Regions from separate parts of the Homo sapiens genome. Here region 2 is linked to region 1. Evidence: fine-mapped expression QTL. Tissue or cell type: nasal epithelium. Region 1 holds a variant in brackets; the other region holds the start of a gene. All regions are shown on one strand. Distances are from middle to middle.

Region 1 (2,756 bases):
CGGGAGAGAGAGGCAAAGGGGGAAATGGTGCATCTGTCCTTCGCGCCCCCATCCCCATCGCTGGCTCCTCCATCACAGCAGACTTCTGTCGCCACCAGCACAACATTAAAAGGAAGAACTGGGGACCTAGGGACCTGGGAGGAGAGAGGTCAGAGCAGATACAAGACAAGTCTCCTGGGTCTGCATCAGGTAAGTGGTAAATCTGCAGGCGACATACTGCCCAAATCTAAAAATAACAAACAGACATTTCTAAAACCATAATTTGGTACGTCCAAGGGTTCCTACGCTTGAAGTGCCTGACCTCGGCACTTGCAGCACCTCATCTGGCCTGGATGTGCTTCCAAGTTCCCACTTGCTCCCTCAACTCCTCCCATCTCTGTCCCCTGCCCTGGGAATGCCAGGCTGGGCCAGAGTCTGGGCCCGTGCCCTGAGCACCATGCTCAGAAGGCACTGCTCACACCTTCTCTAGCCACACCATGTCATAGGGCAGAGTTCACAGGGCCCCCAAGACATGTTCACCTGGACACCACCCCACCTTCTGGGTCACACTCCAGGTCTCCCTGGGCCTGCTGCTTTACCTGCCAGTGTCCATTTTCTCAAGGGTGAAGCACTTCACCAGTTTGCATAAGAGAGGTTGTCTGCAGAGGTGTAGACAGACTTGGGACCTGTGGCCAGGGATGTCTCCCTGTACCACAGAAAGATTTTGGACAAGAAACTTGAGGAGTCTGAGAATTCTACATTGGAGCCTGGCTTCCAGGTTGTTGTGAAGGTCGTGTTTATTTACCAGGATGGCAGTATAGGACCTGATTTTTAGAGAGCTTGACTTAGAACTTGGAAACAGCTACTTAGACACATGGAATGTGAGCCTCTGTTTGTACTCCTGCCTCGGGTCCAGCAAGTGTTAGGAGCGAGCCTGTCTCTCCTCTCCCTGCTTTGGGCCGCTAGGCAATGTGCCCAGAAGGTCTAATCAGAGTGTTTGCTAATGAGTTGGCAAGCTCACTTACCTCCCTTCCTAGGGCTCTTCTTAATTAGAAACAAAACAGCTCCCAGCACTCCCCAAACAGAAAGTTGCAGCAAATTTCACACCCAATAAAGGAAACTTCCCTCTGCCACTCACCCACACACGAGATCAAAAAGATGACACCTGTTGTCACCCCTGCCCGGGGACGTATGGTCTTTCCCGGTCTTTGCTGTCAGTACTCTACTCCCAGGGTTTCCACCTAAGGAGAGCACTCACTGATGTACACTGGGACTTCAGAGCCCAAAGATTGTGTAAAATATTCAGGCAACAACAGCCAAAACCACAAGGAAGCCATTGACACAAGTCTTGGGTTACTCACCTCCGTGCAATTCGGGGCCACACCAATGCACAGCCTGAGCAAGGCTGCGGATCCC[A/G]GAACAAGCCCGTCTGCCCAAGTTTGAGGTCTGGTTTTAAGCAGCCTTTCCGGCCAGCACAGATAACACTATCCTGTTCTGCAATCAGGGCCAGGACACTGCAGTCAGCAGCCCTCACAGGTCCAACTGCAGACCGCTGTCAAGCAACCCCATGACCATATATGAAATCCCAATTACCTGTACTTATCCATCGCTAGTTCACTTCGCTGCAGTCCTTCGTAAACCAAAGAGCAGGTAGAACGAGTTCACCCTGAACACAGCATCCCTTTAAATGACCCTGGAGACCGTGATTTGCCATTGCCAGACAGGATGGACGGGAACAGATAGGCAACTGTGTGCGATCACAGGACATAATGGAATGAAATGTCAGATCAGGTGTTAGGATTTGATCTGTGCTATGGTTCAATCTGTGCTACAGAGTTCACACTTGGTCAGGCTTTTCCACGATGTGTAAAATTCTACAAGGTCTGTGCGGCATCACCTTTACTCTACTTTGCTCAACCACGATCACTGTGATTAGGAAGCCTGCCTATAGCCACATGACCCTCGCCACCTCCCACAGCCTGGGGGCCAGTTGTCATGGCATTTTATCAGGATCTTGGTCATGAGAAACCACTCTAAAAATGGGTTTCAGAAAGTAGAAGCAAGGCAAAAAAAGCTCTGACAATTTAAAAACCATTAGAATTACTAAGAGTTTGGTAAGGTGTCAAGTTCTTTTAAAAATAGCCTTTCCACACACCAATGGCAGCCAGTTAGAAAAGATTGTGGAAGAGGGCTATACAGTCCCTTTCGTAACTGATATTAAAAATAACTACCTAGAACTGAACATTAAAAATTTGCCAAAAACACACAAAAAATACCAAGCACATGAAAGGAAAATGGAATAGACAGACCATATACCTGGAAAGTAATTTATTATATAGATCTCAAGTCTTTCAAAATTTATGTAAAATGAATATTAATCTAATTAAATCCCAAAAGGATTTTTTCTACAGCTTGGCAAAAATGATTCTTAAGCTTTCATAGTGTAATAAATGTAAGAAAAGTCAAGAAAGTATTTTTTTTTTTAAGGAAAAGCTATTGAGGGACAGAGGGCAAGACCACATTCTACCAAATATAAAAATATGTAGTAAGGCCAGGAGTGGTGGCTCATGCCTGTAATCCCAGCACTTTGGAAGGCCAAGGCAGGTGGATCATCTGAGGTCAGGAGTTCAAAACCAACATCCCCAACATGGTGAAACCCCGTCTATACTAAAAATATAAAAATTAGCCGGGTATGGCGGCACACACCTGTAATCCCAGCTACTTGGGAGGCTGAAGCAGGAGAATCGTATGAGCCTGGGAGGCGGAGATTGCAGGGA
Region 2 (2,501 bases), 74 kb after region 1:
TATTTTGATATTGTATTATGTGGAGTACATATGGTGTGGCAGCTCAAGGCAGACGAATTATTAAATATGTACGGTGATCTTACAATGGGTATGGCCCGTCTCTTGCTTTCTAGGAATTGACCATCTTCCGGCAGCCCAACACCTAGTCCCCTGTGTATTATGCACTATTACAAAACGTGTTCAAGTCGCCTTTTATGCCTAAGGCTTACATAAAAATTCATCTTGCCTTTCTGCGTCTATTTCCAAGTTTGAAGGACCTTTCTCCCTCCAATTAGCAACATTTCAGCACTGCACAGGGCTTATTAATGCTCACTGTTGCAAGTAACACCAAGGTAATTTGACTTTCTTGTAGGAACAATGTCGACGAAATCCTACAGAATTAAATTTAAATTTCCAGTTTAAAAAAAAAAACCGTGAAAGAACACTTCATTACCTTTATTATCTAGACGTATCTAATGACGTTAAGTAAAAACTGCACCAAGGCTTTGAAACCAGAAGAAAAGTGGAGTTTGTGAAATTTAACCACTCCATGCTTTTTATTAGTATTTCACTTATGAGTATTTCCCGAGGCTCACTGTTTTGGCAGGCACAGTGCTGTTAACATCTCTTCCTTTCTCACCATTCTTTGCTCATCGATGAAAAGATAACTTCAAAATCTCTGACAGGAATGCAGGTGCAGGAAGTGCGACGGAAACAAACAACTTTGCCTCCGCTTCCTACAGCTTTCCTCTCCTCCCCGCCCTTCTAGCCCCCATCCCACCCCAAGATCATGCCCTCGAACAGCTTCTGCCCACCGATCGCACGTCCCCTGGGCATGTTCGGGCAGCGGTGACCCTCAGCCACATCCCCCACTAGCCCGGTCCCGGGCAGGCGAGCGCGCTGCCCACCGGCCACCCTCGTCACGCCCCCTCCACCCTCTCCATCCCAGCCACAATAATACAATAACCGCAGTCATCGCGCGGCACGTGGAAAGGCTACTTTTCAGTGGGTTTTGCAGAAAGCAATCAGACAGCGGAAGGCCACGAGAAACGCTGGTGAAGCCAAACCGACCCCGGGAGCGCAGCGGCCCCGGACCCTCCCTGGAAGCTCCCTCCGCGTCCCCGCGCGCCCACCTGGAGGCGCCGCGCCCTCCGCCTGCCAAGCCGGTCCCCGGCCCCTGCCCGTGCCCTGGGCCCCCGGCGGGCAGCGGCGGAGGGAGGCCAGGCGCGGCACCGTCCTCCGCAGCTGCACGAGCCACCCCGAGGTCGCGGGGTGGGCGGGCGCGAGCTAGGCGCGCGGGGCTGTGGGGATCTGCCGGCGCCACTGACGCCCCCGCGCGGCACACCGCGCCCGGCTGGCCCGGGAGGGGACCCGACTCACCCGAAGCGCCCTGCTAGCTGCCCGGCCCGGCTCCGGCCGCTGCCGCCGTCGCTGAACTTTCCCTCCTGCGCGGCCGCCGCGGACTCGGCTCCACCTCCCGCTCCGGCAGCCGCGGAGCCTCCAGGGACCCCGGGGGCGGGGAGCAGCGGCGGCGGCGGCGGCTCGGGCGGGCGGGCGCAACAGCGGCCAAGCCTGGCGCCCCGCCGCAGGGTAGGTCCGGCGGGGGCGGCCAAGGCCGGGCTGGGGTCGCGGTTGGCCGCGTACCTCCGCGTCACCCACGGCCTCTCTGCAGTGCGTCCCTGCGCCCGTCGGAGCGGCGCCCTGGCCGAAGCCTGTCACTCTCGGAAGGGGCCGCGCTCGGACACCAGGGGCGGTTTACGCGTGACTGGACACCAAGAGCCGGAGAAGTTTAGAGACTAGGACACTGTGGCGTGGCCCGAGTTGCAGGAGAGAGGTGTCCAATCTCCATGGGGTCCTTACTCTTGCAGGACAGAGTTCCCCATCCCCCTGCTCCACCCGCTCTGTTCCCTTGGCTGCCCTCCCCGCCGAGCGCCGACTTCCATGCAAAAACTTTGTAAATCGCACTTCGGGGAATTCACGCTTTAGTCGCGGTCTCTGCTGCCCTGGTCAGCTATAACGCCTCCCCTAGAGAGCTTTTACTTACAGCGAAGGTCAGGAACCCCTGTAACTCTCACACCGCACCACTGTGGGTAAGCGATGTCTGCAGGGACCCCTGACGGCCACTGGGAGGCCAGGAGAGAAGAGGGAGAGGAAAGGCTAAAAAGGCAAGTGGAGTGTTGGGTAATAAAAGATCCACCGCCACCTCCAGCACACACAGGCAGGCACCCTCCAGGGCCACAGGTCGCCTTTTATCTGTAAGTGCTCCAGCGCATCTCTGTGGGAGAGGGAGTTGGGAAATAGGATCGCCAATTTTCAGTGTAATTGAGGGGGACTCAGGAGGAGTCAGTTAGACTGGAAGAGGTCATCACCTGCAGATGCGGTTAAGCAACTTGCAGAGGCCCCAGGGCTGAGCCACCGCAGAACCGGAGCTGGAAACCAGTCCTATGACTCCTGAGGCAGTGCTCTTTCTACTACCTGGCCATGGCTCCTTCTACTGCCTGGCTCAGAGTCTCCATCTGGGA

What was found. PIP is the estimated chance that this variant, and not a neighbour inherited with it, causes the effect.
Region 2: it holds the start of CSGALNACT1, and the variant in region 1 is fine-mapped to the expression of CSGALNACT1 in nasal epithelium (TOPMed, PIP above 0.99). The same link has a PIP of 0.9 or more in whole blood.

Annotation. Positions count from the first base shown.
Region 1 is chr8:19,681,356-19,684,111 of GRCh38, forward strand. The region is part of intron 1 of CSGALNACT1 (chondroitin sulfate N-acetylgalactosaminyltransferase 1); the gene reads right to left. All of the region lies in intron 1 of CSGALNACT1-AS1 (CSGALNACT1 antisense RNA 1), which reads left to right. Among named protein-coding and RNA genes, the nearest start is that of CSGALNACT1-AS1, 4.2 kb to the left of the region's middle. The variant A/G (reference allele first, on the strand shown) is at 1,396.
Region 2 is chr8:19,755,827-19,758,327 of GRCh38, forward strand. It overlaps CSGALNACT1 (chondroitin sulfate N-acetylgalactosaminyltransferase 1), which reads right to left and starts at 1,451. Exons shown (of 9, transcript NM_001354483.2): 1 at 1,360-1,451.